3 separate regions of the Homo sapiens genome follow, and regions 2 and 3 are each linked to region 1. Evidence: fine-mapped QTL for protein levels in blood plasma. A gene starts in region 1. Each other region holds a variant in brackets. All regions are shown on one strand. Distances are from middle to middle.

Region 1 (8,284 bases):
AGAAGACCAGAACACAGATGATAGGTGTTAAGATGAGGAGATGATCCCTCAATGGTCATGGAGGGATTTGAATTTTCTACAGTAGATTTCAAAAAAATCAGGGAAACAGCCCAATATCCTTTCAGATACCATTCTTATTGACTAGAGGCCTGGGCTTGCCTAACTTTGCAATCTGTAGGTCATCACTGTGACCAGCTAGTTAGGGCTTGGGCAGATGGGACTTGAAACAAAGAGACGGAAATTGGTAGTAGAATCCATCTGACACTTTGACTTTTTTTTTTTTCTAATGGGATATTTTCATTAACCCCATCCTAAATTTCTATTTCCCGGATCAAATGATAGCTGGTCAAGGAACATCGTGGGTTATATTTTCTGAAAGCGTTAGCCATCTTAATTTTTTTTGTGGGAAAGGTGGAAGGGACTCACTCCTAACTTTTCCCAAACTGTTTGACAACAACATATTTTTATACGGTTATCATAAGTGTTGATTACATTTGAAATTGGTCCTTTGGACTAAATTGTCTAAATTTTCTAGTTCAGTATGATTTACTGTATAGTGTTTCTTCAGCAGATCTAAACCTTAAAAAAAACTACTTCCATGTGACAAACCGTGATGCAATTTTGCAGCTGTTTTCATTCTAAACATATTGAGCCCAATATATCCCAATTAGAAGAAATGTATATGAATTATCCTTATTAAGCGGTATTTGTAATTCTCTAGCACTTGTCTAAATTTCTTTGGTCTCTATTTTCTTCTAGTTGTACATTCCAATTGGCTACATTAAGATACAGCAGATTTTACAAAATAATGAACAATTTATACATGTTTTAAATAGAAATGTTTAAAAATTACTATGGTTTTCATTTCCTTGATTCATGAAATGATAATATAACAGAAAGGGAAAACAAAATCCAAAATGAGATTTGGGTCATATGTTTTGCTCTGAACACTTGATTTTTCTTTGGAACTTGGAGTTTGATATAATGTGGAGCCTGGAAAGGGAGCATATGGTGTATACGAGGCACTCTTTTCTCTTACTGTGATTTTTCTCTATTTTCAAAATGCAACTTTGGGAAAAGATTTTAGGTGGATTCTGGCCACCTACCTATAAATGGTAGTGTCAATATCTTTCTTGGATCCTGCTGCCATCCAGGTGGGGGTAGAACCTTTTTGAAAAATTGTAGAAAAGGGGTGAAGTCTCATGTGATTATAGTTGTAGAAATCCAGCAACTCATACCCTCTTTGTGGTAGGCATATAAATGCTGTCTCTATCAATGTGCCTGGAGAGGGTTCCTTGAAGTACTAGTGGCTCCTTCCATCCTGTACAGTTCTTTGATGGGGATGGGATACTCTGAACTCTTGGACTGCTCTCCCTCCCTGGGCTCCCCAGATAATTTAGTTTGGAAGTTTCTTAGATACCTAGTACAAAGTGCTATCTAAGAAAGGAATTAAGCCAATTCTACTGGTATAGAACATTCATTTATTCAGAGATTATCAAACTGTAAACCACCTGATGAAATGTTCATAGGTTTTTTCATTGAGTATTTTGTATGTTTTTTACTTCATTACTTTCTTCTCTTCTCTTTATTGTTTCCCCCCTATAATTTATTTGAGTTTATTTTGCCATTCTTTTTCCAACTCTTTGATATGAATAATTAGCTTATTAATTATTAATTTTATGCTTTTCTGCATTTCTGGTATAGGTACTTAATTATATACATTTTCCTTTAAATATTGATTTAGCTGCATACTGCAAATTTTCTGTGTTGTTTTCATTATTGTTGAATACAAAATGTTTAAACATTTTTAATATACTCTTTTTGTGATTTATGAATTATTCAAAGCAATGCTATTCAAGCAAAATACAAGATAAGCCACAAATTCCAGTCACATTTGTGATTTAGAATTGTAAACTTCAAATCATGAGATTTGTTGGCCCTATGGCTGCCTCTGGTTGTGCTCAATATGATGCCTGGATATTGCTACACCAGATTCTTGCACACAGCCTTTTGCCTGGTTCTTATTGGCTCCATCTCTTTTCCCATGATTCTCCTGATTTCTCCAATACTCTTGCCATTAACTTTTGTGGCTGCAAACAGTCTGATCTTACTTCTGTCACATCCTTACCTCCACTTTGCTACTCAGAACTATAACCTTCTGAAACTTAGCCATCCTCAAACATGTGCAGACTACTTTGTCAGAATGTTTAGATCCCTTTTCTGTTTTACAAGAGAAAATATGTGTTTATAATTATGTATAAATTAATTTCACCAAACATTAATTTATTTCATTTCACATTAAAGTTTATCTGTAATATTTTAGGCTGTTCATAAAAGCCTCCTGAATGTAGTTCGTTAGTTCAATCTTATAAACCTAGCATTTCATTAGTAGGATACATTTCTGATGAATAAATACTGTTGGTTTTCAACATCAAACACTTTGCAACAAAAGTTGGAAAAGAGTGTCCTGCATTTACTCAAGACTACTGGATCTTATTTCCAACCAGGATATATTTATTCTAGTTAGTGTTGATGTGACAATGGGGACTGGTGACTCGGAAAACTTAATTTACAAATATTTATAATTTATTTTGCCTAAAATGACATTAGGGACAGAGAGGTGACCATTTGGGGAGTTAGACTGGCATGAGCTAACTACCAGTTTGTCCCAGGCATTCAAAAAATACGGCTTCAAGGAAAGCAATGGTCAAAAATAAAGGTTGAAAATAAAAACATTGTCTAGCTTTGGTGCGATATCCAAAAACTACAATAACTATTGTATTTGAAAACTTTTTAAATATACCTTAAGCTTTCTGCCACCTTACAGAAAGGACAGTCTCTTGGCTGGCTGTTATGGCTAAATTTTAAAAATATCCATAGGGAATATCAGTCCTTCAACCTATAGATATAAAACCCCCAAATTCTGAAACTGCCAACAGTCTTTTTTTTTTTTTTTCCACAGCATTTACTTGTGTTTTGATTGCAAGAAGTACCCAGGAAGGAATAAAATTTAGTAACAGAATGAGGATGTTATGATTTTTTTTTAAACTGGGTTAGGGGTGGGGAGAGGGAGAGAGAGAGAGAGAAATATTTTGCACTGGAAAAACTATAATCTGGAGAGACAGAGGAGTTGAGAGTGCCCCTTTAAACTGCAGGACTGCAATTGATCTCTGTATGTTTTCTGGTTTTCGTCCCTTTGAAAGGGGAATGAGAGCCAGGATCATTGGCTGTACTGTGGAGCTGTCACATCTCCATACTGAAAAGGTACACTGCAAGTGAATTTAAACCGTTTTTGGCTTTCTATTGCATATTGCCAAGAGCTTTGAGACTGATGAACCAAGTAAATGCTCTATTTAGGGCTAAGTGAGATACAGATTCCTCCAATCTGATAGCGTTTCAGCCTCCGGAGTGAGGAAGCAGCAGAAACAGAAGCAGCAGAAGCAACAGCAGTAGCAGCGGCAGCAGCAACAGCAGCAGCCCCTACTGAAGTCCAATAGAGGAGACTTGATCTCTAGTTCATTCTGGAACTCCGCCTGGGATTGTGCACTGTCCAGGGTCCTGAAACATGAACCAAACTGCCAGCGTGTCCCATCACATCAAGTGTCAACCCTCAAAAACAATCAAGGTAGGATCTGGTTTTTCCCTCTGCTTCTGCACATGTGTCTTCATTCATCTACCTAACACATGGGCATTGATATATCGGGGTACTGACAGTGGACATACCTACTTGATTTGAGTTTGAATTGAAGGTTGAGTCACAATAAAGCATTTGGCTCTGCATGTGTGTGTAGACTGGAAAGAATAGTTTCCACTGAACACTTCTTTCATCTTCATGACTTTTTTTTTTTTTACTGAGAATCTATCAGAGGTATATTTCCAGAAGAAAGTTTTGTGAGTGTCTAGAAGAGTTTCCAGTCCATGCCAATTTTCTTGATAGAACTGGGGAAGAATTTGCAAACTGCTAGAAATAAATAGCATCAAATTGACTACAAATCTGATAACAGGATTTCATTGTCATATGAATTTTGGATCTCTTATCCTTTTTTAAAAAAAGCTCATCCTTCATTGTGAGCATTGAACTGGTGGTTATACTAAAGTGATTATAGTGAGAGAGGATGAAAGACTAGAGAGAGAGTATAAAATCACATGTCTTTATTTATATCACCATGTAACTCAAAACCAGTGAGATGATTGGAGACACTCTTCAATGCAGGTGTTGTTTAAAATTTGAGGCTTTTCTGACAGCACATGGTTAAAGGTAAAGAACAAACTCACAATTTCACTCTTCTGTTTTAGTTTCAAGTCATGCTTATACCATTCTCTTTGTTTTTATTCGGGATGCTCTTATTTCCAAGAAGGCTTATAAACGACCAGACTTCCAATCAAAGTTTACTATATTTTGCCATTTACTTGAATTGTATTATTATCTATGTGGATATTTTGCATCTTGAGGGAAAGTGATGGATTCGTCTGAAACTCTTTTATGAAAAAAAAAAAAAAACTAAAACAAAAAACGTGATATCCTGACAGGGCATCTTTAGTTACTGCAATCTCTCATTAACATACAAGTGCATACCTTTTGCTACTATTCCTGATAAGCCTGACTTTTTATGATTTATATTATGTTTTGGTTTATGTCTCAGGCCTTTAATAATATTGCATAGACTGTAATTACAAAAGGAATATAATTTTCAACAATGTCTCTTCTTCATGAATTTACCTACCGTTTGCCAGAGTGTTTCAGTGATAGATAAACCATAAACTAAACATGTTCCTCTATTTATTAGCAGTGACTTTTAAAAGCAATGGGGTTTCCAGGGTATATTAAATGATGCATAATTAGATTCCCATCATACATAAACATAGGGAGTTAACTGAAATCATGCAGAACTCATATTCAGATAATTTACACCACCTCTAATAACAGATATGAGAATCTTTTTCAGCATTAGATTTTCTGTGCTGTATCTAAGTTTAGAAATAAAAAATGTTGAGCTTTTGGTATAGTTTTCCTCTGTGTATCAGTTTCCCACATACATCAATTATCTAAGCATATCACTGAACAAAGCCAAAATAGTAAATACATGACACTCTACATTGGGATATATAAGCTCTAGTGGGAAATATGTATTGAAGCCTAAAGTGGGATAGAGTTACAAACTGGCTGCCTACTGCTAAGTATGTCTAGAATGCTATAACAAAACCAGTGGCTTTCTGTTTAAGAGTCTGAGGTCACAGGAATCAAGCATTTATTTTCCCTTTTCTTTATTGAGTAAGCATAAATGACTACTACTTTCAGAGACTTCAAATCACTTCCTTTATTAGTGCTCTGGCATTGGCTGCCCACAAACAAACTGTGGAACAGAAAAAAAAATGTTTCTAGTGTAGAGGTTTTACATCATCTTGCTGATCTTGCAGATGCTGTTTTTTCCTTCTAACTGCAGCCATTGAGTTGAAATGAAAAGTATCATAAAAATTGGACAACCCACCACTTAACAATGTATTATATTAATGGCTTAATGAAGGAATCTTGAATCAAAGCTCTGGGTAATTTGGTTAATTGTACAAGTTAAATTCTTTTGTGCACCCCATTCCCAATATTGCTCTGGGGAGCAAAAAAATGCTTGTGATGTTCATAAAATATATATAGTCGCAAGCACTGAACTATTAAGGGAGTAATTACTTGAGTATTTTGCAATTTGCAATAGTGAAAAGGGATGAGTGGAAAATCTCTCTTAGTTCAAATTATGTGCTCAATTATGAAACATTTATGGCTTTTTGAATTTATACTAAAAATGGCTATCTATATTTAGGTAATGCATTAGCCTATGAACAAAATGCAATAACAATCTAAAGAAAAACTCTAAGATGAGAGGGTTTTGGGAAGCTGTGGGACATTGGAGCTCAAAATACTCTTTGAACTATTAGAATTTTAGTTTCAAGCATGGTTGTTTAAAGTTAATTTTATTCCTCACTCTTAAATTTACTATCAATTTACTATCAGATAATTTTAAGTAACCCTCCCTCATGGAATCTGGTTGGCCTGCAGGTAATGATAACCCACTTTGAGGATCTGGAAATAAATAACTTGCATATTGCTCCATTTTAGAAATTCAAAAACCTCTAGAGACTTTTCTCCCAAAGCTCAGTGTAATAACCTCTAGAGAACTTTTCCCCCATCAGTATAGTAAATGCTGACTGTTTCTTCTCTCAACAGTTAAACTACGGCTAAAAAGAATGCAATGGGAATGAACAAAAGTGAAATGCATTGCTAAAATAGCTGTAAAGGCCAAAAGTGTGCAGGAGGAGGAAAAACAGCTCTGTGTGTGTGTGTGTGTGTGTGTGTGTGTGTGTGTGTGTGTGTGTGTTCTCCTCCACTTGAAGTTCAAGAAGTGATGAAGTCTATAGTGGGTAAAATTCAGCAATTGTTGCCAGTGAAGGCTGTTTGTGGCCATGATGTGTCAGAGTTGGAAAAGAGGAAATTGGGAGAAGTTATAATGGAACAAGATGATCAAGAGTATTCAGGTTGCTTGACACTTGCTTTGGTCGTTCTGGCCATTCTTTAGCTCAGACAGTTACTGACACACTTTTCCTGGCATACTTTGGCAGGTATGTTCCTATCGTCAAAACCAGTAAGGGAGAGAAAAGGGAGTCAAATAGGGGTGCCAAGTGTGTTCTCAGATCACTTTGGGTGAAATGCTGAATGCAATTCACTCTGAAAACTTTCCTCCATTTCAGAGCTTGTAAGGGAAGAAAGCTTTTCCTGATGTGATTACAAATCTTCCTGTGAAGGTAGCAACATTCTTTTAAAAAAAATCTTTTACTCTGAGATGTTTAATGGAAAGTTTTAGGAAGTATCTGGGAATGCTAAATAGAGATCAGATCTTTGCGTTATTATAAACGTGATTTCTGAAGAATGTCCCCCACCATGGGTAGCAAACTTGAGTTTTTCCTTCACCATTATGGCTTCTCTTGGCTGCACTGAAAGTAAATTAAACCTTTCAGCTAAATCTCTGATCTTGGTTTACTTCTTTTGCTAGTGGAATTGCAAACTTAGAATTTTGCCTCTAAAATGTGCAGATTTTTTTCTTATTTCTTTCACATTTGAATATCAGTCTAGTATCCTCGTGTGTCTAAAATGAGTAGAGAAAATCCTTCATCCTTTTTGAAGTTATAAATTGTGAGTAACTTATCTGGGGTGGTGATTCCTGGATCAAGAATTATATGTATTATACTTTATATGGTAACTCTGAAATACAGTACACAATATTTCTTTACCCTTCCCATGTAGTGACCGGTCTTCCTCTTTCTCTTTCCTTTTTACAAGACCTGCCTGATTTATTTTAATACTGCCTTCACACCCAGGTTTTCACTTCCATTTAGAAAAGAGTCTCAAGGTCTAAAAGTTCTAGTTACTTCCTACATAGCCCTGCTGCAAGTTTTTACAAACTATACTTAAACGAATCTTTAAGATTTTCATTGTCTTCGGAGTACATCTTGAGCTGGCAAACTTTTTCATGGTGATTTTTACTGCCTTTTATATTGTAATATTGATGAGTCATTGTGCTAATAAAGACTTTTCCCCCTTGCTACTTCTAATCCATAGCCTCAGCCAAATGAGGCATAGGAAACAGAAGACAAGGGGTTAAAAGAGGATGAAAATCTTATCACAAGTATGTATTGTTAAATACGTAGGCTTGGAACATGGTGGTTAGGAAATAATTTCGTTAGCAAATTGGTATTTTGGAGTGTGACATTGCCATGAATTGGCATGATGAGATGGCTTGGAACTACAGCATTGCAATCTCACTGGTTGTTAAATTTTTTTTTTTTTTTTTTGAGACGGAGTCTCAGCTCACTGCAACCTCCGCCTCCCAGTTTCAAGTGATTCTCCTGCCTCAGCCTCCCGAGTAGCTGGGACTACAGGCACCTGCCACCACGCCTGGCTAATTTTTGTATTTTTAGTAGAGACGGGGTTTCACCACATTGGCCAGCATGGTCTCGATCTCTTGACCTCATTATCCACCCCTCTCAGCCTCCCAAAGTGCTGGGATTACAGGCATGAGCCACCGCGCCCGGCCCACTTGTTGTTAATTCTATACCCCTAACCTAAATGCTGGACACTGACAAACCTGCGTTTCACATAGTACTTGAACTTGAATTGTAAGTTATTCTTAAAGGGTATTTCATAATTAAATATATAAATTATATCCACAAAAATTTAGAAATGCAAGGAATGTTTAATAACAAAAAATCTACCTCTGTGTGTCATTGCAATATGCAA
Region 2 (8,000 bases), 1.2 Mb after region 1:
AACATTTTTTCATTGATTCTTTCTCATCTTCAGGAGTTTATCCAGCTTTGATCACAGAAGCTGCTGACCTTTGGATGGGTTTTTTTGTGGGGACTTTTTTGTTGACGTTATTGTTATTGTTGCTTTCTGTTTGTTTATTTTTCTTTTAAGAGTCAGGCTCTTCTTTCATAGGCGTGCTGCAGTTTGCTTGGGGTCCACTCCAGACTCTATTTACCTGGTTCCTTTCCACACCTGGAAGTGTCACCAGTGGAGGCTATAGAACAGTAAAGATGGCTGCCTTTTCTTTCCTCTGGGATCTCTGTACCAGAGGGGCACTGACCTGATGCCAACAGAAATGCTACTGTATAATGTGTCTGGCAACCCTAATTGAGGGTTCTCCTCCAGTCAGGAGGCACCGGATGTGGGACTCACTAACTGAGGCATGTTGGCTGCTCCTTGGTGGAGGAGGTGCACTGTGCTGGGAGGAATCCCACTTGTCTAGACTGCCCAGATTCCTCAAAGCCAGCAGGGGCAAAGACTAAGTCTACTGATTTGCGAAGACTGCGGCCACCCCTCCTTCTAGGGGCTCAGTCCCAGAGAGATTAGAGTTCTGTTGCTAAAACCCTGGCTGGAGTTTCTGAAATTCTTGTAGGGAGGGCTTGCCTAGGGAAATGGTGTGGGTAAGGATCCAGCCTAAAGAGGCAATCTGGCCACACTCTGCCACAGCCACGGTGCTGCACTATGGGGAATTCCTCCAGGGTCCAAACCATCCATTTTCCCTGGCATTGCAGGGGAAAGATGGCAAACTGGAGCTGCAGTGATGGCGGCCACCCCTCCTCCCGGAACTCAGTCATCTTATGCAGCAGGCAGCCACAGTGATGGCTGCCGCCCTTCCCCTTGAAAGCTCAGCCATCTTAGGCAGCATGCAGCCACAGTGATGATGGCCACCCCTCCCTCTGGGAACTCGGTAGTCTTAGGCAGTCTCCAGCCGAGTAGCCGCTGAGAATCTGCACAACTCTGCGGTTCAGACCCAAGGCTCTGGTGGCGTGGGCTGACAAGGGGGATCTCCTGATCTATGGGTTGCACAGATCTGTGGAAAAAGTGTGGTTTCCCAGGCAGAGTAGCACCATCACTCACCGCCTCCCTCGGCTGAAGGTGGTAGCTCCCCTTGCCCTGTCTGACTCCTAGGTGGGCTGTGGCACCACTCTGCTTTTCCTTACTCTCCGTAGGTCACACCAACCACCTACTCAGTCCCATTAAGAAGACCTGGATACCTCAGTTCAGTCTGTTTAAATAATTCTTCAAGTTTGCAGGCAACTGAAACTCACCAGTTAATGATTAAGTAGTAGCCGCACCTGTTCCATTTGATAAGAAAGGTTATTTGGAGAGGATCTTAGCTCTAGAAGCCCAATGGGGAGGGAAGCTTGTGGTTAAGTTATTGGAGGCCCTGTGATTTCACCAGATATCCAGTCAGCACATAATTTTAGACATTAGTTCTTAGGCTTTATATCATATAATAAATATGGCTGGAATGATAGACTAGAAAACTCTTGATGTTTCTGTCCTAATATTATAATTTATTAATGAAAGAATTATCAATACATTCTAAAATCATTGGGCAAAAAGTGTTTAAGAATAGAATATTCATGTTTTCAAAGCATCATTGCACATATTACTTGAAAGGTGGAACATGTCCCTTTAAAATGGAAAGATCATACAGTGACAATCTTAACCAAGTGGCTAAGTTTGGCATTACTGATGGTGTAAAGCCTAACTTTTTGTTTCTTCTGATGACATGCAATGGGAGATTCACTACACCAGTTTTGTGGTATTCTTACCAAAAATGTTGACCTCAGTCTAATCGCAAAAAAAAAAAAACAAAAAACAGACAAATCTATGATGGTATGCTTTGCGAGACAGCTACCCTGGGCTTCTCAAAAAGTTAATACTTTAATATTAAATCAAAATATGTAATAATGAATAATAGGGGAAAACATCAACTATTTTAAATTAGATAAGACTAAAGTAACGTAACAGTGAAATGCAATGCATGAAGTTGCATGACAGACCGAAAAGATATAAAGAACATTTACGTGACTATTGATGAAATGTAACGTAGGTTGCATGTTGTATAATTTTATTAAACTGTTTATTTTTCTCAGGTGTGGTAATGGTGTTGTGGTTATATATTCTTGGGAGGCCCATACTTAAATATAATTGTGCAATCTCCTTTGGATCATTCAACAAAACAGTTGTGTGTATGTTTATGTTAAAAGAGAGAAGGAGACAGAGAGAGAGAAAAGGAGAGAGACAGAAAAAGAGAGAGAGTGAGAGAAGGAGAGAAGGAGAAAAAGTGAGAGAAATGAAGTATATATGGAAAGATGTTGAGAATTAGTGATTCTAAGTGAGGATTATGCAGATCTTTATTGTACTGTTCTTTCAACTTTTCTTCAAGTTTGAGGTTTTTAAAAGTAAAAAAAAAAATTACCACATAGCTGAAGGTGAAAACATACCAATTATGGTGGATAAATAACTTAAACAGGGAGTCAGACTTCTGCTCACATCCCTTATCATAATAAAATTGCAGAATCTAAGAGGAAGTGGAATCTTAAGAGATTTTAGAAGAAAGGCAGTCTACAGAAGACAAGCAATTTAAACAGGCCTCTCAGCAACAGCCATTAGAAACCTAAATACAATGGAATGTAACTTCAGTGAGCTGAAATAGCTTAAAATTCTGTACCTAGCCAATACACTTTTCCTGAGGGTAAAATATATGTTTGAACAGATAATCTGGGATAAGCCAAAAACAAATACTCAGTAAAATAAATGTTAAAGGTATAATGTAAACAGAAAAAAAAATCCAGATGTGAAAGTAATGATACAAAAAGAAATTATGAGCAATTATATTGGCAAAAATGTGACTAAATCAAAGCAAATTATGACTATATAAAGCCAAAGTAATTTGAAATTTTGTGAAGAGGAAAAATATCTTTCAAAAAACTGATTAAAAAATTATATACACAATAGGAAGGGGAGTAAAGTAACTGTATACTATGGCTTTTGAGTAGTTTGAAGAGGGGTAAGTTAATTGTTTTTAAATTAGCATAATCACAAAAAATATAGATGCAAAGTACAAATTTCTAAAAATAGAGGAGAAAAATAGAATAAGAAAATAGGAGGCACAGAATTGAGACTCCAAGAATATGAAAAATACAATCCAGGTGATAGAGTAAGATTGGGCAACAGTGACAGAATAAAGATTGAGGAATAGGTAAACCAATGAAATATATTGTTAGGAGAGCATTTCCAAGACCACAAAGAAACTTAGCAGCTCTCAATTATAAATAAAAGTTATTTTATGATAATACTAAAACTCTTATTGAATTTATGAGTGAGCCCCGAAATAGAACATGTTTCATAGGCATAAGACTTGATTAAATCACTATTTTCTCTAGGAGGGAGGCCCCTGTGACCTGGGGGGAAGCCTACACACAGCTCTCACTGATGGACAAGAACAGTGGCCATCCCAGTCAAACTAAACTTGTGTGAAGAAAAATTAAGCCTAGACATCACCAGTCTGTGACCTCTAGTACCACCCTTGTACCTGTATCACATTCTACTGGTATAACTCAAATATAAGTTCAGAGTGAAAGCACTGAATCATGAAACTAAGAGGGTAACCTGTAGAAGAAGAGCCAGAGATCTGATTGCATGTTAGGCTTCACTCTAGACTGTAGCCTCTGAGGATTAATAAAATCTTTGGAATGCAAAGATCACTTTTCCTCTGAATAAGATTTGTGAAATCTCTAGAATTATGCACTTTCATATACATCTGTGGTTCTGCCTAATTTTAATGGGTACTGCCTTCTGATTCTGTGGGAAGAAAATATCATGGGACTTTGAAATCCGTCAGTTGATTGCACATTTCTTGTTCAGTCAAAATTTACTTAGAATTCCAAGTGTGCATTTACTAAAACTGTGCTTGAAGGGTTGGTAGTGGGTGATTTTAATTCTCTAGTATTATATGTGATTGCAGTCTGGAAGGCTGAACTATTTTGGTGATGGCCAACCATGCAGTAAGAAGGTTAACACAATTTGCAATGGTAATCTCTCTTTCATCTACACATTTCAGTCAACCTTGGCATTATCTCTAAGGCCGAATCCAAGTGCCTGTAAGCCAGAAGCCTTCAGGAAAGAGCAG[C/G]TGTTTTTGTGCTCTCTCACATCTTGAATTCTAGGTCAAAATGTCATGTAAAAGTTTTTTCACTAAAATATCTATATTGATTTCTAGGAATAAAATAGAAATGCCTGGAGGATTCTGTGTATTTTCCCTGTAAGTCACTGAAATATCCTGGTAGGCCATCAAGAAATAAAATGGATTTTGTCTCCATTGTATGATTGAGTCCTCCCTTGAAATCCTTGCTATTATCTGGACCAACAAATGTGTAGAGTCCAGACTAAGAGTGGAGTTGATTCAGTGTATGTATCCATGGGATTTTGGTCAACAAAACAGGACTACTTAAAGCCTTGTTGGGTAGGGGTTTATTATAGGAATCAGACCTTACACAAACACGGAAGCACTAACTGAAGAGAAAGTGTTTAAGGGGGACTGGGATGATCAGAGAAAGAATCACTGGCTGGTTTTCCTGAAGCGCTGACTCAGGTAGACAAGAAGCCAAGCATGCTCTACTGCCAAAGTAGGACTCTGAAGGGGGCACTTCAGCAAGGTCTGTAGGAAGATGTTGTCTTTGGTGGCCACTACCACTGTGAGTCCACAGCCAAATGCCCAGTGGTAGGTTTGGGGCCACCATTAGTCAGCAGGGCCAGCTACTGAAAAGGTGGACTAGATTCAGAGAAGAGGAGAATAAGGATACACTGAGTCTTGCTGGGTACCCCTCTACGTATCTTAGGCATCTATCTTATGAAAACCTTCTGAAAGTAGTAGCTTCTGTTTCTCTTCTTCCTTCCATATCTCACTGAACGTCTCTCTTCTGGCCAATTCTAATGTAGAAATATCAGGAAAGGGTATTGGGAAATGTAATACTCCATATTTGCCTGACATAAGCAAGATAATCTAGTTAGAAGCTGGCAATTTCCTTATAACCTAGGACAATTAGGAAGTAGAAATTAGAGTCTAAAGCAGTCTGCAAACTAGGAAGACAGTGGCAAACAGGAGTAACAGGAAACGAAGTCAGGTGCAGTAGACAAACATCTGTCCTGGTGTTATAGGTTGTGCCAGTATATGGGAGGCTGAGGGTCAGAAGGTTTATGCAAAGAACCAAAGCGAAGCAAGATTTACCTCTGAAATGACAGGAGGTCACAGGTACATGAAACTCAAATGCATTACAGGTTTTTTTTTTTCTTTGTTATCCAAATATAAAGAGCAGGAGATAAATTTCATCACCTTTTGAGGTGTTTGTTAAAACATGTAGATTTCTGAAACCTCCTTGCAGACCTAGGAACCGGAATCTCTAGGGTTTTGATTCAGGAATCTGCATTTTAAATACAATCCTCAGATGGTTCTTCTGTGCAGTCTAGTTGGGAAATATATGATTCGCAGAGTGACAGATTCATGCTAACGTCATGTCAGGTACTTACTGATCTGCTTCAGCACTGAGAACAGAGACTGAATTAGAGGACCAGATATATAAGTGATTTTTTTTTAACTGACTCATACAGTAGATTTTTTTTTTTTTTTTAGAGAAGATAAAATTCAGGCTGGAGATGGCAAATAAATTATTCATGTCACCTACCTAGTAAGTGACTGGGCCTATACTCTAATTTAGATCTACTTGACTCCAAAGTGTACCCTTTGAGTGTTGAATGGAGTAAAAGGCTTCAGGCTTGCAGAATTACTGACTTGCTTGCTAAACATTCATCAGTGAGACCCCTCAGGGAAGGAAAAGTAATACTGGTCTCCTATTAAACTAAGTCTGTGTGGATTTCTAAGAAAAGTCCTGGAGGCCAACATTCCCCCAAATAAAAGAACTAGTAATGGAGGAAGGCAGGTCCTGAAAAAATCACTCCCAAGAAAAATGAGAACTTCACACTCGCTTTGTTTTCTGCCCCCTCCTCCTCCCTCTCTGTGGACCCAGCACTTACAACTACTATGACCTCTTCCATCTTTATGTGTCTTCATCATACCAAGTATTCCCCTTTCTTATCTGAAAAAGAAAAAAAAAGAAGAAAGGAAAAAAAAAAACGACATCTTGATCTCGTTTATATGGAATTAATTTTACAGTTAATAAGTAAAACCTAATATTTTTTGTCTACTTTTTTGGGAGCAATATGGTGAACTCATATTGGCAAAGTTATTTAATGGTTTTATGAAGGAATAGATAAGTGTGAGTGAGAAAGTGTGGAATCAGATCGCAGCTGTAAAGATAAGCTGAACTATGGCAGCGCAATGTGACCCCTAGTCCTTGCATTCTAATTTAGGTTCTGCTGGGAAGCTTTACGAGATTATTGAATACCTTTCTAGCAATTAGAGCTGGCCTGGATGGTTCCGGTTGCCTTGGGAATTTGGAAATTCTTCTATGTGAAAGATGTTTCTGCAGGAGCTGATCATTATACACCGATGTTACAAACAATTAATTTATAAAGTACAAAGTTTCAATTTCACAGTGTTTATTTTGTTTTTTTCTGTTAGCTATCTGTTCACCAGATAACTATCATTCTTTCCATATCTTGTGGAATTCCTGCTAGGACTAATAAGATAGGAACTGGAAAATAGCTTTGAAAATAGAATAATTACTTTGAAAATAGAATAATATGTATTATATGATATACATACAGGAAAGTACTCCTGCAACAGCAACAATTGTACTGATTCTAATATCCCAAATCCAGCGGCTGCTCTTCACCCTCTCTCCTAGCCCAAGCCATCATTTCTACCAGTTTACTACCACAGTCTCTTAAATGATCTGCCTGTGTTCTGTCTGCTTCCACAAGAGTCCATCGTCTACTCAAAGTTGTTCAGATCCTGTCATTTCCTTGCCATAAGAGGAGAATCAGGACAAGTTTTGCCACGGCATCAAGGCCCCGCGTGATTTGTCCTCACCTGTTTTCCCAGTGTCATCTCCTCACAGTCTTCCTTGGTTATCTGCATTTCAGCATCACAGACTTGCTTTCTAGTCCCCAAATGTGCCCACCTCATTTCCATCTTTGTCTCTGCTCTTCCCGTTCATTTCCAATACTACCTCTTCAGAGAGACCTCTTTAAACCAGCCTACATAAATGAACCCCACTCTCTCCCTCTATCCTAGTATCCTGTTTAGTCTTTTTATTACCGTACTTATCACTGTCTGAAGTTATCTACTTATGAGTCTCTATGTGTATTATTAGTTTTCTGCTATTATACCGAAGTGCAAGCTCAATAAGGGTAACGTCTTTGTCTTATATCCTCAGTTCCTAGAAGAATGCCTGTCAGATACTGGGTTCAATGTGCATGTGGAATAAATGAATGGATAAATGGAAGGAATTCAATTATATTTGACATTTGGTAGGCAGCCAGATTCAGTGAAATTATGGAATACTGGTGCCTCAAAACAAAACCTTTTCTTATGTCATTTCATATACGATAGTGTTACCAAGTATCAACCTTTTCAGCCACACAGCCTGAAATAATGAAATGGAACATAGTAGTTGGACTTGGAACCAACTTCTGCCTTAAGCAGAAAGCTCATGCAGAATTTAAAGCGATTATTAAGGAAAGAAAATCCTCTTCAACACCCACAGAAAGATAGGGCATTGCTTTTCAAGTCATAAGATTTTCAGTAATTAGATAGGAGAATTATAAATATATTATTTGCATGTTACACATTCCTGTAACTCTAACCATCCAAATATGGTTTCTATATTCAAAATAGGTAGCAATTTAAATATAAATGAGACAATGCCTCATACATACAATATAATATTTAACTTAAAACACCGAGATGGTTAATTCCGTGTGTCAGTTTTGCTAGCTACAGTGCCCAGATATTTGGTCAAACATTCCTCTGGATGTCTCTGTGACAGTGCTTT
Region 3 (8,284 bases), 1.4 Mb after region 1:
TATTTCCTAAATCTTGAACTTAACTTCTTCCTCTTTAGGGTGGGTTCCACTGAATGATTTGCTTCAAGGGTACTATATGGAAAAAGAGAGAAAGAGGAACTTTACAGTGGAGAAATTTGACAAACATCACATCAACAGTGACAAGTCATGTTATTACTGTTATTAAATGCCCTTGATATGATGTAGTGGGGATGGCACTTTACCTCCATGGTTTAGTACTCCAAGCCCATACATAACACCAGTCTAACCATGAGAAAACCATCAGGCAGATCCAAATGAGGAAAATTCTATCAGATATCCAGCCAGCACCCCTCAGAACTGTTGGGGTAATCAAAAAAAAAAAAAGTCTAAGAAACTCTCATAGACCAGAGGAAGTTTAAAAGACATGATGTCTAAATATAATGTGGGATTCTGAATGGAACCCTGGAACAGAAAGGGTACACAGGAAAACAACAATAAGAACACCAACAAGAAAAACTAGTGCACCCCAAATAAAGTGGGTTTAGTTAGTGGTAGTATATGAGTCTTAGTTTCTATTTGTGACAAAGTATATAATAATATAAGATGTTAACAATGGGGAAACTGGAGGACGGGTATCCAGGAACTCTGTACTATCTCTGCAACTGTTCTGAAAATGTAAAGCAATTATAGTATTAATAGTCTATTAAAGAAAGAGGTAGATGATACAGTACCAGTGTTGGGTGAAACATGATGAAAGAGAGCGTAAAAATTTTGAGGGACATTTGGATGTTGTTCTAAGGTATTAAGACCTTACATATATATCAACAGTAATAAAAATAAATAGCAATTATGTACTCATTGTATGTCAGAAAATGTGCTAAAAGCATTTAATATTATCTTATTTGTACTTCTTGCAAACACGGAATAGTAGATGTTATTACTTTCATTTAACAGATTGGGAAAATAAATATTAGGAAATGATATAACTTCCTTAAAAGAGTAGACACAATTGATTAGTAGGAAGGAGATTTGAATCCATGTATTGAGCCTTTTATTCACTGTGCCCTGAAGCCTTATTCATATGAATAAATTATATTCAAGGTTAAATTATTGTATGTCTACCCATCATGCTGGACTAATATATTAGTGCTATTTCAAATTTCTCTGTCAATATGTTGTAGCTATAAAGGTAAATCATTGTTCTATCTGACTCACTCAGTCACAGGCCTGGCGCTTCACCCATCTAATAAAATACAAGCAGAGGTTCAGCCCTGGTCCCTGGAGAGGAAATGCACCTGTGAATGTGTGTGAGCACACACACACATAGGCACACACACACAGGCACACACATACACATACCACACAACCCATACGGGCCTGGTGAATTATAGGTGCTCAGTCATGACACTGTAACACCACTACTATTAATATTATCTTCAAAAATTACCAGCAAATGAATTCAATCACCCAGTCAAACCTGTAATGTTCCCTTTTAGCTATAGTAAACAGACAAATAGCAACAAATATCAATGGACTTTGCATTAGAAACTAAGCAGAAAAAAAATCCAATTGGAAAAATCCTTTTGCACATTTATTTTCAGCTGTCTCCATGCAGACAAATAAGGGATCACATTACCTCTGTCATTGACCTTATTAATTAGCATTTCTAGAAGCTTACATTTATAGAGCAGTTTGTACTTATGTAGCAATGACAAGGTCATTTTCCCATTAAGTGCCATAGGAAGATGTTGAAAAAGATCTTGACTATCTAGTTTTTTAATAGGTTTAAATGATTGTTTGCCATTTTACATTCTCTGCTGTGTGGTCTGATTATTCAGCATTCTAGAGTTAGAGCATTAAAGAGGCTTAAACTATTGATAAGGCTGCCCTAATTTTGCAACGACAATTAAAAATGTTAGCTTAGGCTGGGCGCGGTGGCTCACACCTGTAGTCCCAGCACTTTGGGAGACCGAGGCAGGCAGCTCACGAGGTCAGGAGTTTGAGACCAGCCTGACCAACATGGTGAAACCCCGTCTCTACTAGAAATACAAAAATTAGCTGGGCATGGTGGTGCACGCCTATAATCCCAGCTACTCAGGAGGCTGAGGCAGGAGAACTGTTTGAACCTGGGAGGCAGAGGTTGCAGTGAGCCGAGATCGTACCACTGCACTCCAGCCTGGGCAACAGAGCAAGACTCCATCTCAAAAAAAAAAAAAAAAAAGGCAGCTTAAACATGAGTTACAGAAATCTGAAGATACACAAACTACAGGAATGAACACCCTAGACAGAATGTGAGCCAACTTCTGCAGAAAGAGATTTGAGTGACTGCACCAAATCTTCATAGCTACCAAACCCATGGCTATTGGGCTGCTTACTTCAGAATCTTGGATCTTAGGTTCTGGCAGAAGGAAGATAAAGCAAGAGTAACCAGTATGCTCTATATTAAATAGTTAGTCCTTGTATAATGAGATGTGTATTCTATTTTCTCAGTATGGGGTATTCTTTTCTAATTTTGAATAATAAAGCAGAATGCCAGTATCCAACTGAGACTGTGCCCTAGTAATCTTCAAAATGAAATAGATAGCTGGTTTCCTGTATTAATATCCAGAAAAGACATTTGCCATATTAAAATTTTTTATAAATTTTATAAAATTTATAAAAATATGTGTACCATTAGGAATAATAAATACTATCCAGTAAAGTAAATATAAACACCATTCTGTAGAGTAAGTAGGACTTAGTTGTAGCTACTGTTTTGCTTTTTTGTTTAATAGAGTGAAGCTCAAAGTTTTACCATTGTATTTGTATTTACCAGCTTTCTACCTAAAGCCAGATATAAGGTTTTTTGGTTTTTTTTTTTTTTTTTTTTTTGAGACGGAGTCTTGCTCTGTCGCCCAGGCTGGACTGTAGTGGCACGATCTCTGCTCACTGCAAGCTCCCCACTCCCGGGTTCACGCCATTCTCCTGCCTCAGCCTCTCGAGTAGCTGGGACTACAGGTGCCCGCCACCACACCGGCTAATTTTTTATATTTTTTAATGGAGATGGGATTTCACCGAGTTAGCCAGGATGGTCTCGATCTCCTGACCTTGTGATCGGCCCACCTCGGCCTCCCAAAGTGCTGAGATTACAGGCGTGAGCCACCGTGCCCAGCCAGATATAAGTCTTTTAAATGTGCAATGTATGTAAAATAAAACACTGAATCTCTTTGAAAAATAATATGAAAAAGTTCTCATACAAGCAGTGTGTTTCTTCAGATATCATAATTTGATTTCTTGCAGCAAAAGTTCATTTCCAACACTCAGCAGAATTAATCAAGCACCTAATAAAAGCTGGAGTGAATTATACTATG[C/A]AGGTAAGCTACTTTCTTAGAAGAACGTGTTTTCCTGCTGTGTTTTTTCACTTGTGAGATACGCAACACAGCTTCTCTATTATTCCATTCTCCCTACTATTATTTTTTAATATGTTTTTTAGTTACCAAAGATTGTGTTCTCTGTTCCTGATTACACCGAGAATGTGGATGAACTCATGCTTTACAAGTGAATTGCATGAATCCTTTCTAAATTGTCATTTTCCTCTCAGACTTATTCATATCCCAAATATTGAATTCTTTTAAAAGTAACAAGTTTCTACTTCCCTTCTTGTTCCTTTTATCTTTTCTTCCTTTTGTTGTTCCTTTCTTCCTTTTCTTGTTCCTTTTGTCTTGTTCCTTTGTCTTTATTATTAAATATGAGAGTTTATTATTAATTTATTTTTAAATATGATAATTTATAATTCTCATAATAAATAGTGGATAAAAAATGTTTGGGGAAATATTACAAGAAAAGAAGAGAGGATAAAAGGCCATTTGCACTACCATTTATGTCTGTGCATTCATACATTTAATATATATTTATCAAGGACATTACAGTGGTCACTCTGCTCTATGAGTAACAAGACATACATTACACTGTCAAGGAGGTTCCAGTCTGATATAAGAGTCATAGAAGGAAAAAGTAAAGTCATTTAAATTTCTCAGCATTCAGAAGAACCAAAAGTTGCTCAACCTGTCTAAAACACAAACTACCACGTTTAGGATAATGAAATATGAAGCTATACAGATAAACAAATGTCAGGTCATTCCATAAGCAATGTTGAGGAGTATGGAGTTTTATTCAAAGGGCAATGAGGCGCCATTTAAACCTTTGTACTCAGGAATTAATGGGATAATATTTGTATTTTTTATTTGTATTTTAGAAACAGTAACAATTTTGTTTACATTGGAAAGGGAATTGTCAAAGTAAATAATTGCACCAGACAATGTTAAAGAGGCAAGGAAGACCTTATGAAAAACTACTGCAAAGGAGACAAAGACTGAACTCAATGCTCTTTAAATAAAGAGCTGGAAAGTTTTCTAAACTAAATACTCCTAAAAAGGGGAGGAGAGGCCAAGGGCCTTTAGTCAAAAAGAAACTGTCCAAAGTTTAGTCAAGCTGAGGGCAAGGTTAGTCCATCTCAGTCAACATAAACATGAAAAAGTCTACCTTTTATGGCCAACATATTCTAATTTAAATACCAAATATTAATTGACATGATTACAATTGTTTTAAAAGTTTAGCATGAATAACTTAGAGTAGAATTAGGTTTGATTTTGGTCAGATATTATTACTCAAAGTTTCCATGACGTTAGGGCTCAGAAAATGAATGCGAGAGACAATAGCTTCTTGGATAATTTGAAATCTTCTTTCTCCTCAATATCTTAGGTCTACCCAGATGAAGGTCATAACGTATCTGAGAAGAGCAAGTATCATCTCTACAGCACAATCCTCAAATTCTTCAGTGATTGTTTGAAGGAAGAAATATCTGTGCTACCACAGGAACCAGAAGAAGATGAATAATGGACTGTATTTATACAGAACTGAAGGGAATATTGAGGCTCAATGAAACCTGACAAAGAGACTGTAATATTGTAGTTGCTCCAGAATGTCAAGGGCAGCTTACGGAGATGTCACTGGAGCAGCACGCTCAGAGACAGTGAACTAGCATTTGAATACACAAGTCCAAGTCTACTGTGTTGCTAGGGGTGCAGAACCCGTTTCTTTGTATGAGAGAGGTCAAAGGGTTGGTTTCCTGGGAGAAATTAGTTTTGCATTAAAGTAGGAGTAGTGCATGTTTTCTTCTGTTATCCCCCTGTTTGTTCTGTAACTAGTTGCTCTCATTTTAATTTCACTGGCCACCATCATCTTTGCATATAATGCACAATCTATCATCTGTCCTACAGTCCCTGATCTTTCATGGCTGAGCTGCAATCTAACACTTTACTGTACCTTTATAATAAGTGCAATTCTTTCATTGTCTATTATTATGCTTAAGAAAATATTCAGTTAATAAAAAACAGAGTATTTTATGTAATTTCTGTTTTTAAAAAGACATTATTAAATGGGTCAAAGGACATATAGAAATGTGGATTTCAGCACCTTCCAAAGTTCAGCCAGTTATCAGTAGATACAATATCTTTAAATGAACACACGAGTGTATGTCTCACAATATATATACACAAGTGTGCATATACAGTTAATGAAACTATCTTTAAATGTTATTCATGCTATAAAGAGTAAACGTTTGATGAATTAGAAGAGATGCTCTTTTCCAAGCTATAATGGATGCTTTGTTTAATGAGCCAAATATGATGAAACATTTTTTCCAATTCAAATTCTAGCTATTGCTTTCCTATAAATGTTTGGGTTGTGTTTGGTATTGTTTTTAGTGGTTAATAGTTTTCCAGTTGCATTTAATTTTTTGAATATGATACCTTGTCACATGTAAATTAGATACTTAAATATTAAATTATAGTTTCTGATAAAGAAATTTTGTTAACAATGCAATGCCACTGAGTGCTATTTTGCTCTTTTGGTGGAGAAGGCTTTTTTCAAAACTCTTGGTCCTTTTACTTCTTTCTCTCAGTGCAGAATCAATTCTCATTTTCATCGTAAAAGCAAATAGCTGGATTATTTCATTTGCCAGTTTCTATTTAGTATTCCATGCCTGCCCAATTCATCTGTTACTGTTTAATTTCAATTCTTCTGGTGAGAATTAGAAATGAAATATTTTTTATTCATTGGCCAAAAAGTTCACAGACAGCAGTGTTTGCTATTTACTTTGAATTGAAGGCACAAAATGCATCAATTCCTGTGCTGTGTTGACTTGCAGTAGTAAGTAACTGAGAGCATAAAATAAACCTGACTGTATGAAGTCAATTTAAGTGATGAGAACATTTAACTTTGGTGACTAAAGTCAGAATATCTTCTCACTTCACTTAAGGGATCTTCCAGAAGATATCTAAAAGTCTGTAATAAGCTTAGAAGTTCAGATAAATCTAGGCAGGATACTGCATTTTTGTGGTTTTAAAAAAGTCCTTAGGACAGACTGAATTATCATAACTTATGGCATCAGGAGGAAACTTTAAAATATCAAGGAATCACTCAGTCACCCTCCTGTTTTGTTGAAGGATCAACCCCAAATTCTGGGTATTTGAGTACATGTGAATCATGGATTTGGTATTCAACTTTTTCCCTGGATGCTTTGGAATCGTGTCTTCCATGCTCCACTGGGTTCAATTTAAAATAGGAGAGGCTTTCTCTTCTGAAAGATCCATTTTAGGTCTTTTTCAAGAATAGTGAACACATTTTTTAACAAAATAAGTTGTAATTTTAAAAGGAAAGTTTTGCCTATTTTATTAAGATGGAAATTTCTTTTTAGGCTAATTTGAAATCCAACTGAAGCTTTTTAACCAATATTTTAAATTTGAACCACTAGAGTTTTTTATGATGCAAATGATTATGTTGTCTGAAAGGTGTGGTTTTATTGAATGTCTATTTGAGTATCATTTAAAAAGTATTTGCCTTTTACTGTCATCATTTCTCTTGTTTTATTATTATTATCAATGTTTATCTATTTTTCAATTAATTTAATACAGTTTCTAATGTGAAAGACATTTTTCTGGAACCCGTTTTCCCCTTAAACACTAAAGAGACCTCAAGTGAAAGCATATTGCTTAGTAGGAAGGTAGAAAATGTTAATCCCTGCGATTCTTTGAGTTTTAATGACAGGGTCATTTTCAGTAAAGGAAATGCTCACCAACACATAGTCACCAACTATTAAAGGAATCATGTGATTGGATTTTCCCCTGTATACATGTACCCTTGGTCATAATCCCACTATTTCATACATATTTATGCATTGCTAGATTTTCCTAGGACTCCAATAGCATGCTTTCCAAGTGTTATTATTCCCTTAATGTTAAAGAAAAAAATCAATATATTGAATTCTTTAATTAAATAGGTAAGCAGTATTAAATCATCCACAGAGATAAACAATCTCTTGAAACTCTTTTGAAAGAGAAAAGTGTTTGTTCACTTTCATTGCCTTCATTAAGATCTCCAAATACTCAGAGACTAAGCAGGCTATTCTCATCTCTTTGAGTTTCCTGACAGAACTAAAGGAAGGAATCACTCTTCAAAAGATGGATCTCACTTCACTCTGAAAATGTGCCTTTTTTTAATTGGGTGTTTAGCATAAAAATCACTATTGGGGATCTTACAGATGTCTGTTGTAGATCTATTACAATGAGGTGACTTAGACATTGGGCTTTACCATATTAGAGAATTACTTAAGCCATTGTCCTTCAAATGTTGGGCTTGGAGACAGAAGTACCTTGGACTGAATTGCTTTCAAGTCTCTAGAATCACTGACAGCACATAGCTTCTATGAGGAGTTATATATGAAATACCACTTGTGTCCCTCCTCAAGTTCTCTGACCACCTTCACATCCTGCGGCCACCAACACTGTATGGATACAATCTGGCCTCTCAGCTCTGCTCACTTTCACTTTCTGTTCTGGGGATTCTCTGATACTAATTTTGGCTACTTGGTAGAACCAAGAGACAAATCGCTTACATGCTGCAAACCGATGTGAAGGTGTTACTAACCCGCTAAAACACAATTAATGAAAGACTGTAGCAGGTAACTGATCTTTCCCTCAGATATTCTACATGGTCCATGGAAGACTCTGTGGGCCGCAGAAGCCCATAGCTGCATACCCTTCTATTTTCCTCTTCCCCATTTCACTCTTTTAAGCTCCCTACTCCTATTCCCTATGATCACTTTCCAAAATAAACGGCAGGTGTGCTAGCTGTTGTCTTAGACTCTGCTTTCTGGAAACTATTTTTCCCCTCCACAAGAAATTATCACTGTGAATATTACAGGAGGAGAAATAAAATAAGAATAAATCAGTGGTTTATTTTCAGGTTCGAATAAACTCTTTCTAATGAAAATGTATTGGACTCT

Direction of the effects. Positions count from the first base shown, and alleles are read on the strand shown. Strength reflects both the effect of a copy and how common the allele is.
For the plasma level of the protein whose gene starts at base 3,428 in region 1, C is the low allele of the variant in region 2 and G is the other (weak association).
In carriers of allele C in region 3, the plasma level of the protein whose gene starts at base 3,428 in region 1 tends to be higher than with A alone (moderate association).

What was found. PIP is the posterior inclusion probability: the model's chance that the variant is causal. Protein levels are from antibody-based Olink assays in UK Biobank. Linkage for the fine-mapping came from a reference panel and not from the study's own genotypes, which makes the PIPs less certain.
Region 2: its variant is fine-mapped to the plasma level of the DPP10 protein (UK Biobank, PIP above 0.99).
Region 3: its variant is fine-mapped to the plasma level of the DPP10 protein (UK Biobank, PIP above 0.99). The variant lies in the coding sequence of DPP10. If it changes the protein, the assay may bind it differently, which can mimic a change of level.

Annotation. Positions count from the first base shown.
Region 1 is chr2:114,439,214-114,447,497 of GRCh38, forward strand. DPP10 (dipeptidyl peptidase like 10) reads left to right here and starts at 3,428. Exons shown (of 26, transcript NM_020868.6): 1 at 3,428-3,625. The coding sequence starts at 3,566.
Region 2 is chr2:115,634,302-115,642,301 of GRCh38, forward strand. All of the region lies in intron 5 of DPP10 (dipeptidyl peptidase like 10), which reads left to right. Among named protein-coding and RNA genes, the nearest start is that of DPP10-AS1, 480 kb to the left of the region's middle. The variant C/G (reference allele first, on the strand shown) is at 4,181.
Region 3 is chr2:115,837,510-115,845,793 of GRCh38, forward strand. It overlaps DPP10 (dipeptidyl peptidase like 10), which reads left to right. Exons shown (of 26, transcript NM_020868.6): 25 at 3,241-3,314; 26 at 4,702-8,271. The coding sequence ends at 4,836. Among named protein-coding and RNA genes, the nearest start is that of DPP10-AS1, 680 kb to the left of the region's middle. The variant C/A (reference allele first, on the strand shown) is at 3,312.